Linked DNA regions of Homo sapiens. The protein of the gene in region 1 interacts with the protein of each later gene in a biochemical or structural test. Each region holds a gene or a part of one and is shown on either strand. Other genes may lie near its edges.

Region 1 (2,950 bases):
GTGGAATCGGGAGATGGTAGTCAGGAATCTAAAGTAGTGGTTAGGTTTGGAGCTCATGGGCAGGCTCAGATGGAACCCTTCACCTCAACTTTGGCCCTGTGCCTTTTCCTTCAGGAGCCCCCCCATGGAACTGCAGCCCCCTGTCTCCCCTCAGCAGTCTGAGTGCAACCCCGTTGGTGCTCTGCAGGTGTGTCCCATCCTCATTTCCCATGCATGCCTGTCTTCCCTTGAGCCAGGGGCCATGAGGGAAGGCTATGTGTGTTTGGGGGTGGGGGCGGTTCCTTGTACTGAGGCCCTTTCCACCCCCCTCTCTCCTTCCTCTCACCTAGAGTCTGAGGCTCCTGCGTGGGGACCAGCGTGGGTGTGAGAAGCCTTTTTTCACTCAGCCTCATGCACCCTGTGTCTCCCTTCCAAGGAGCTGGTGGTGCAGAAAGGCTGGCGGTTGCCGGAGTACACAGTGACCCAGGAGTCTGGGCCAGCCCACCGCAAAGAATTCACCATGACCTGTCGAGTGGAGCGTTTCATTGAGATTGGTAACTGGGCAAGAAGGGGTTCTCACAACTCCTCTCCCGCAGCACTCTGGCCCCAGCCACAAAGCAGCTCCTGGCCTCACTCTGCTACACCCCCTGCTCTCTTAGCTTCACAGTCCCTAGCTCAGCCCCTTCCTTTTAGCTTCTTGGCACCCTATTTGTCCCCTTCTCTCTGGCTGACCAGGTTCTCACGTGCATGGGCAGGTCTTGAGTTCCCCTTTCCAGTTGACATTCTGGGGGGACCCTCAATCCAAGTATGACCTGGGTGGAAGCACTGGGTCTGTGGGGAATCATAACCCAGCAGCCCTCTCTCCACATGCAGGGAGTGGCACTTCCAAAAAATTGGCAAAGCGGAATGCGGCGGCCAAAATGCTGCTTCGAGTGCACACGGTGCCTCTGGATGCCCGGGATGGCAATGAGGTGGAGCCTGATGATGACCACTTCTCCATTGTGAGTGGCTCATGTGGGCCGGGCACCGTGGCCCATCCTCCATGCCAGGGCAGGGCTCCAGGGACTTGGGTCTGTGACTCAGCAGTGAGCCTCTCTGGGCCCTAGGTCTGCTTCTGCCACAGTTTTCCTACCAGACCCAGGGTTCCTGGGGCCGACTCAGCCTTGACTGTAGGCCCGCTCTGTAGCTCTGTTACTGGGGTGAGGAGGGATCCCTGGCCATCTGGCCCAGGGCCTGGTAGTTAGAAGGGGCCACCCAGGGATTGACTGGGGGGAGGCAAGCTGGAGGAAGCATTCTTTGTGCTTTGTTCTCCTTTGACGTTGAATGTCTCAATGCCTGGGTCCCACAGTCTCTCGCTTCATCTTTCTCACTGTTCCCATCTTGACAGGGTGTGGGCTCCCGCCTGGATGGTCTTCGAAACCGGGGCCCAGGTTGCACCTGGGATTCTCTACGAAATTCAGTAGGAGAGAAGATCCTGTCCCTCCGCAGTTGCTCCCTGGGCTCCCTGGGTGCCCTGGGCCCTGCCTGCTGCCGTGTCCTCAGTGAGCTCTCTGAGGAGCAGGCCTTTCACGTCAGCTACCTGGATATTGGTATGGCTAGCTGGGGAGCGAGCCAGGGGATGGTGGGGGCTGGACCGGAGCAAGTAGAAGGGGGTGATGATAACGTGAACGCACCCCTCCCCAGGGCTACCTCCCCCAACATTGCCTCCCTCCTCTCTCTTGCTCTCCAGAGGAGCTGAGCCTGAGTGGACTCTGCCAGTGCCTGGTGGAACTGTCCACCCAGCCGGCCACTGTGTGTCATGGCTCTGCAACCACCAGGGAGGCAGCCCGTGGTGAGGCTGCCCGCCGTGCCCTGCAGTACCTCAAGATCATGGCAGGCAGCAAGTGAAGCCCCAGCTGGACTCATGGATGTGCACCCTTTGCTCCCTGCTCTTTCTGCCTCTGGGCTCATGTATCTGCGCAGCTCTGGTACCCTCTGTGGGTGCCATCTCTACCTCTGACACAGACTGCCTGCCTTGAAGCTGAGAAGGCACAGGGCAAGGAGCCAAGGACCACAGAGCCTCAGCCAGCCCAGGATCCGTCCTCATTTTATTGGTGATGATGAATGGGAATGAAATCAGGGGGCTGTCTACTAGAGCCTGGAATAAATATGCTGCTTTGTGGATTTTTAAGCCCTTCTCTTCTGTTTCCTTGAGCAGTGTGGATAGCAGAGGAGGTCACCACATTACTTTTGTGTGCCTTCCCTGAGCTCCTGTTCCAGCCATTCTCCTGTTTTCCTTTCTGGTGGGAGGAGGCTGGGCACAGTGGCCTCGTGGAATGTTGTCGGCTGCCTTGCTGGAGGGCTGGGTTTGGTGGAGGGGAAGGGCAGTGGTTCTTGCCCTTGGGCTTCCACCCAGCCCTGTAAAGTCTCACACAGACACACATGGATTCAGAAGCCAGACAATTTTATTTGGGGGGCAAACATTGACACTTTTGGGTGTGGACCTTGCATGCAGACATATCAAGGGATGACATGTCACTTCTTCCCAAAGCGTTGAGGGGCAGCCAGGCTCCAGAACTGGGAATTCAGCCCCTCTCCAGCCCGGGGACTCAGCCATTCATTCCTCCAGGATCCCTGGGTATTTCTGCCAAACCTTAGGAAAGATTTGTCCTCAGGTCCCCGCAGTCTCCCTTCTCTAGCCCCCTTCCTTCTCCTCTTCCTCTGCCTCCTGCCCTTTCCACCCCCAGCCCCTGCCATGCTTGTGTCCCTTTCAGACTCACCTCTGGGGCTGAAACAGGAAGGCTTGGCTCCGGCCAGGTCTCTCCATTGCCTGGAGCAGGTAGTGCAACAGTGACCCAGAGGTCTGGGCATCCTGTGGTGGGAGGGGTTCGCTGTCTTCCTCCTGTGCCAAGGGGGTATCAGGGAAGGAAGATGGGCAAATACCCTGGACACGTAAGTCACAAGGGGAAGGGACTGGCTTCCAGGGGCAAGT
Region 2 (7,301 bases), on another chromosome or scaffold:
GAACTCATTCATATCTTTTTATGTTCATCCCAGTTTGTTTTTGCTTTTCCCCCCAGGATTTTGATTACACAGACATCTTGCAAGCATATTTCCATTCTTTCTCTCCCACTCTGTGCCTGGTGCCCGTAGGATCTGAAATAGCATTGGAATGACAGCTAGCCTTCTGGAACCTGCAGTTTCAACCAAAGAAACTCTGATTCCAGATAACCCAGGAGTTTCTTATCCTGCATAATCTAGGAGTTTACAAAAAGGCTGCTTATGGGTACTCACTGCTAAGTACAATCCACTGCCAAGTTTGGAAGCATTACCTGCTCTCACAACCCAGGGAAAGTAGCCCTTAGTAAAATTCAGGTTTTTTCAAACCAGCCTTAACCTTACAAACAGAATTTATCATCATGATTTTTCTTTCAAATGCAGTACAGCAAACTTTAGGATCAATGTTGACATCGTATTGCGTTTAGTCCTGTTAAAATACTCTCAGTGCCAAATACACACTTCTGCCTTTTTTCTCTTTAGAGTCTAGAATTCTGTGGGGTTCCAAAAATGTATGTGCTTACAACCTTTTATATGTAACCACCTAGGGATTAAAGGGCTAAATGTGAAGGAAAGTATCTTTACAATATTCATCTTGGGAAGCTCTCATTTTGGTGAGTTCTATTAGAGAAAATAAGACACAAGCTCATTAAAAATATATATATATTCTGAGCCTGGCATCTTGGTATAAAATTCAAAACGTTTTAAATCTATTTATTAGTAAGACTAACATAGACCTAAGTGTGAAGACTAAAATATTAAAGCTTGTAGGTGATATCATGGTTGAATATGACCTTAGAGTAGATTCCTTAGGACAGAAAAACACCAACAAGAGAAACAATTGACTAAATGGACTTCATTAAAATTAAAAATTTATGTTCAACAAAAGACACTGCTAAAATAAATACAGAATTTACAGACTAAAAGAAAATATTTGCAACATGTTTATCTGAAAGGGCTTATATCCAGACTATACAAAGAATTCCTGTAGCTCCATAATAAAAAAACAGACATCCCATCCGCATAATAAAAAGAGCAAAAGACTTGAACATATACTATACAAAAGAAGATACAGGAATGGTCAATAAATAAGCAAATGAAAGAGTGCTCGACATCACTAATTATCAGTGGAGTGAAGATTTAACCACAGGGAGATACGAATTCCAGTTCTAGGTATTTTTACCTCAAGTGAAATAAAAACATTTATCCATGAAAAAACTTGTACAAGAATGTTCATAGCAGTGCTCTATTCATAAGAGTGCAAAACTGGAAACATCCCAGAATAGATAACACATTATGGTATAGTCATAGAATATACTATATTTATCAGCAGTTAAGAAGGGAACTACTTATGTATTCAACAACATGGATGAATCTTAAAAACATGGTTAAGGGCCAGGTGCGGTTGGTGCATGCCTGTAATCCAAGCACTCTGGGAGGCCAAGGCGGGTGGATCACTTCAGGTCAGGAGTTCGAGACCAGCCTGGCCAACATGGCGAAACACCGTCTCTACAAAAAAATACAAAAATTAGCCGAGGGTGGCGCACACCTGTAATCTCAGCTATTCAGGAGGCTGAGACATGGGAATCGCTTGAACCTGAGGGGTAGAGGTTGCACTGAGCCGAGATTGCATCACTGTACTCCAGCCTGGTGACAGAGCGAGACGCTGTCTCAGAGGGAAAAAAAAAAGTTAAAAAGGCAGACAGAGGAGTCTATATTGTATGATTCTATTTATATAATCTAGACTAGGCAAAATTTATCCATGATGATAGTAATCAGATTGAAGGATCAGTGGTTGCTTGGTGGAAATTGACTGAGAAGGGAAATAGTCATGTAAGAATACTGGCAAATGTCCTCTTCCCCATTACAAACGTCTGAGAAAGTTACTAGAAAACAGAATCCAATTTGCCTTCTCACCCCCAACTTTGTAATCTTGAATCCAGATCCTGATTCCACCCAACCACTCTGCTGAATGGATAGCAGCTATATTAGAGAGACAATATAGTGGGCCTACTAGTTTTAAAAAGTCATCCAAAGAATGTCATCTACAATCAGTTAAATTAGATTTTTACCCATTACTGAAGTGTGATTGAATTAGGGAAAGAGGAGAGGTGGTCAAAGGCAGCCTTCTCCAGTGGATTCCTTGTCTTCTTGAGATGGTTTTGTGAGACCTTGCCTGGAAGACCTAGGTGGATAGTTTATTTTCTAAAAGTAGTCAAGAAAGCTTGTTCAGGGCATTGAACACTGCAGGGACAAGCATACTTCTTGGAGGCCAGCCATCTCCTGCTGGATCTAAGCGGGGTGGCTTCTGCCTCCACCTCCATCTCAGCTTATTTGAGAGAATCCTAGATCCTTGGTGCAGAAGCCCAGCCAGCCTGTGAAGAAAAGTTGGTCTGGTAGTATCCTGTGAATGACGTGCGGGTTGGGTTTTTCTAAATCTCGTTTACCTGACTCCTACCTTACATTCCAGTGGTGTGACTAAGGAACTGAGCAAACGTAACCCTAGGGGACTTTGAGACAGGCTTTGGTAGTCCATGTGCACTAGAGTGAGGGGAAAGAGGCCACTCCAGAGTTGGGTACTCTACTGTTGAAGGTGAGCCTTTTGTGTCCAATTTTTCCGTGCATGTGTAAGAACAGTTGTCATGGAGATTTACTACTGACTTGTGCATGAGGACAGCTTATATCTCACCTTTTCTTATTCACCCTGTTAAATGTCAAAATGTACTAAGACTTAGGTATTTTTTCTGTGTCACCAACTACTAAATCACCCACCCATGATAGCAGGTAGTTACTGAAACTCTTGTAGCCAAACAAGTGCATAACACTGGTACACATGATGTGAGAGTGCAGATGACTCCTTAGCTTAACTGTGTAAGCTTTTAATTTCTGAGTACTTTTAGGATTGAGAAGTGGAAGACATTCTTGCTCTAGGTATCTCATGCTTCTGCACACCCAGAAGGCTGGTTGCGCCCCCACCCCACCCCCCGCCCCCTTTTTTTTTTTTTTGATAGGGTCATGCTCTGTTGCCCAGGCTGAAAGGCTGGTTATCTTCACCACAGGTCTTATGTCTCAAGGACCACGGGTCCACGTCATAGTCAGGAACCAGGCATGTGTGGGCAGAAATCACTACCACTTTCCTTTGTTGCGGGTGGGGAAATTAAGAGCAGAGATTCTTGGATTCTTAAATTCCTTCTCTATGTTTATGTCATCTAGTCTGTTTTATGCTGTTTTATGTAATTCCCTGCTTCTGGATTTCTTGAATTTTTTTCCCCTTCTCACTTGTCATAATTGGCTCTTGCTTGTGAGTCTATTTTCATTCAGCTTGGTAGCAGAAGTCTTCTTCACTATTGTTTAGATTCAGTTTTCACATGGTTTTAGTAACCCTTCATTGGGTTTAGAATCAACTTTTAACCCTTCCACCAAAAGCTCTTATTTTTTTAAAGGCTTCCCAGAAACATAGTTTCTCTCAATCTCATCAAGAAATGCTTTTAAATGCAGAAGTTAGAAAATGGTGAATAATTATGGCTGTTCCTGGAAGTCATTGTGTCCTTAGTAATTACATGTTGTAGTCTTTGGTTCTGCTTCTTTGACAGCTCCACCACACTGTAATTTAATGGAATTCACTTAGATTTAATGGAATTCAGTCCTGGTAGAAAACTGCTATTGGGTCACAGAGTTGGCAGCAAGGCTGTGAAATTGATGTGGGAATGGGGGTGATTATGTGCTTTGTGTTGACAGAAGTTAGTTTTTGGGACATCCCATGTGGGTTTTTCCCAGGAACATAAACATTTTAGAGAATTAGAGCTAGAAACTTTCTTCTGGGAAAGCCTTAGAAGTCAGTTGTGCTTGGCAGTGAGATGGGACAATGTGCATTCTTAACAGGTTAAATGTGCCAAACTCTCTCTTCAGTACTATTCTTTTTTACGTTTGCTTAAGGTCAAGTTCCTGCTCTTTTGTTCAAAGTCTTGCTTTGTCACCCATGGTGGAGTGCAGTGGCGTGATCTTGGCTCACTGCAACCTCTGCCTCCTGCGTTCAAGCAATTCTTGTGTCTTAGCCTCCCTATTAGCTAGCTGGGATTATAGGCTTGCGCCACCTTGCCTGGCTATATTCAAAGTCTGTCTTTACTACACTGTCCCAAAGTAATCTACATTTGGGTTTGGGTCTTTACAGGGTGAGAAGGACTGGCAGAAATACGAGACTGCTCGGCGGCTGAAAAAATGTGTGGACAAGATCCGGAACCAGTATCGAGAAGACTGGAAGTCCAAAGAGATGAAAGTCCGGCAGAGAGCTGTAGCCCTGTACTTCATCGACAAGGTGAGAGCATCTTCCCATCGGCATTGTCTAGTGTTGAGCTTAACAAAGGGAGTTTCTGCTCTGCCCCAGGCCCTGTGCCACATACTGTATATCACAACTCAACATACATATATTTGTATGTAAAACTGAATCAAAAGTTGCACAAAACAATGCTTAGCCTTACTGTGAGCAGTAGATTCTGATCTTTTTTTAACTCTATTTCATTCCTTTAGAAAGTTGGTTATAACTTATAAAATTGTTTAAATAAACCATGCAGGTATCACCATTATATAGTTTTAAAGACCACGCTCTAGAGGAGATCAATTTCTTGGTACTCACGAGAAGAAAAAAAAGTTCATGTTTTTCCCCCAGTCTTGTATTTTAACATAAGTTCTGAATTGTCTCAAAATTCACACTAGCTTTTTGAGTTTGATTGCCCAGAGTAGCAGCACTCCCTCATTTGCTGCCTTATTTAATTTTTTTTTTCCTTTTCTCCATCCCTATTTCAGAGGACAGAATAGAAAGAAAAGGAGCATGAATATTTAACATCCCTATAGATTTCATAGTGAGTGGGGGAGGAAGTAACACTGCAGAATCCAGAGTTCCCAGGCCATGCTGACTGATGCTGTGGCTTCAAACAGAATTGGGAGGCTTCTGTTTTGGATGCCTAGAAATTGCATAAGGGTCAAAAGGCTGGGCGCAGTGGCTCACGCCTGTAATCCCAGCACTTTGGGAGGCCAAGGCAGGTGGAACACGAGGTCAAGAGACCATCCTGGCCAATGTGGTGAAACCCCATCTCTACTAAAAATACAAAAAAAAAAAAAAAAATAAAAATTGGCGTGGTGGCGGGCGCCTGTAGTCCCAGCTACTTCGGAGGCTGAGGCAGGAGAATGGCATGAACCCGGGAGACGGAGCTTGCAGTGAGCCAAAATTGCGCCATTGCACTCTAGCCTGGCGACAGAGCGAGACTGTCTCAAAAAAAAAAAAAAAAAAAACACAGAACGAAATTGTGTAAGGATCATGTCTCTTCCATTCATGCTCATCTTTTCTTTCTTTCCTGGGCAGCTTGCTCTGAGAGCAGGCAATGAAAAGGAGGAAGGAGAAACAGCGGACACTGTGGGCTGCTGCTCACTTCGTGTGGAGCACATCAATCTACACCCAGAGTTGGATGGTCAGGAATATGTGGTAGAGTTTGACTTCCTCGGGAAGGACTCCATCAGATACTATAACAAGGTCCCTGTTGAGAAACGAGTAAGTTAATGTACCTGTACTGTCTGACTTGTTTTCCATTATTCAACAAGCATGGGTTGACTGCTTTTTTGTGTGCTTTGCACTTTGCTGGGCACCAGCAAAAGTGACTTGAGACAGGCAACATGGCACATGCCTGTAGACCCAGCTATTCAGAAGGCTGAGACAGGAGGATCACTGGAGACCAAAAGTTTGAGGCTGTAGTGTGCTGTGATCACACCTGTGAATAGCCACTGTACTCCAGCCTGGGCAAAATAGTGAGACCTTGCCTCTCATATTAAAATAAATAAAAATAAATGACTTGAAAGAGGGGAGAGGTATTATTTGATATCTTGTGTACCTCCTTTTAGTCACTGTTCCGCCCTGTGCTACCTTCCTGGTAAGGAGTGGCCTTCTCCTATAGCAGTATTCAATGGAGCATGCTGTAGAATAGGCCCTTAGAGCAAACTCAGCATATGATTTAACTATATCTTAGTATCCCCTGGTCATGTGGTACATTTGTCACTTTTCATCTTTGCTCAGCCTTTCTCCAACTCCTGACTGAGTGAAAGGTTAATGTTAGTCCCCAGATCTCTGAGCCCATCACTGAAGAGGGTACTATAGCTCTGTAGTCCCAACCTAATCTTTTCCATAGTATTGGGCTTGAACCAGAGACTTACAGTGTGCAGGATCCTAATAATCCAGCCCACCAGCAGTCCTCTTCTTATAAAGACACCTCTTCTCATAAGGACACCATAATCAGTAATCAGGTTTTGCTGGCTGTGGAAGTACTCTGGACAGATTAGATAACAGTATGTATCAATGTAAATTTTTGAAGCTGATACTGTGTAAATGTAAGGGAATATCTATTTTTAGAACATACACACTGAAATGTTTAGGACCATATTATAAGTAAGTACTTATAAATGTACTTTAGGACCATATTATAAGTAAGTACTTATAAATGTACTTTAGGACCATATTATAAGTAAGTGCTTATAAATGGCTCAGAACAAACAATTATGTATATATATCTGTAAATATACACATGGAGAGAGTGAGCATACATGCACACTGTGCAAATGATGAATGGGGTAAAATGTTAACAGTGAATCTCGGTGACGGATGTATGCGTGTTCCTTGTGCCTTTTTCTTTGCAAGTTTCTTTAAGTTTGGGGTTATTTCTAAAGTTAGGATTTTTTTCAAGAGTAATAATTAGGATTCACTTATATCTTTTAGGTTTTTAAGAACCTACAACTATTTATGGAGAACAAGCAGCCCGAGGATGATCTTTTTGATAGACTCAATGTGAGTAGATGAAGCACACAATGTTGAAGGGAGTCCCAGCCAGAGCCTCACAGTACCTAAAGGGGAGGGTTGCTGGCAGATGACTTGGGCTCTCCCTTTAGCCTGGCCTGCTCTGTGGCATCCCATACACTCTCTCTTCCTCCCTCTGAGTCCACGGTGAATCTGTAGTCAAGAGAAGACACATCTGCTGCAGAACAACTGCTAAAGCACTCAGGGTGGGGGGTAGATGAGCCCTACCTTTTATCCTTCCCTGCTCCTGCAGAGCTTTCCCTTCACTGAATGCCCAGCCACCCCTGCTGGAGACCCAAAACCTGTCCCTGATATCTTAATAGGGAAGGAAAAATTTGCTTTATTGGTTTGTTAAGCCCACCAACCTGGGCCAGGCTTGGTGGCTTACGCCTGTTATCCCAGCACTTTGAGAGGTCAAGTAGGGCAGATC

The links.
Region 2: the proteins of TARBP2 (region 1) and TOP1 interact in a test that uses a peptide from one of them, tested with the Homo sapiens proteins (one study listed by BioGRID).

Annotation. Positions count from the first base shown.
Region 1 is NC_000012.12:53,504,283-53,507,232, forward strand, and holds the end of TARBP2 (RISC-loading complex subunit TARBP2), read left to right. Parts: intron 1-114; coding exon 115-187; intron 188-415; coding exon 416-533; intron 534-852; coding exon 853-980; intron 981-1,366; coding exon 1,367-1,568; intron 1,569-1,708; coding exon 1,709-1,866; 3' UTR 1,867-2,149; downstream 2,150-2,950. Other genes in the region: NPFF (pro-FMRFamide-related neuropeptide FF), read right to left, coding at 2,494-2,611, 2,739-2,950; ATF7-NPFF readthrough protein, read right to left, coding at 2,576-2,611, 2,739-2,860. UniProt on the Homo sapiens protein: Required for formation of the RNA induced silencing complex (RISC). Component of the RISC loading complex (RLC), also known as the micro-RNA (miRNA) loading complex (miRLC), which is composed of DICER1, AGO2 and TARBP2.
Region 2 is NC_000020.11:41,108,578-41,115,878, forward strand, and holds part of TOP1 (DNA topoisomerase 1), read left to right. Parts: intron 1-4,204; coding exon 4,205-4,348; intron 4,349-5,392; coding exon 5,393-5,578; intron 5,579-6,793; coding exon 6,794-6,862; intron 6,863-7,301. UniProt on the Homo sapiens protein: Releases the supercoiling and torsional tension of DNA introduced during the DNA replication and transcription by transiently cleaving and rejoining one strand of the DNA duplex.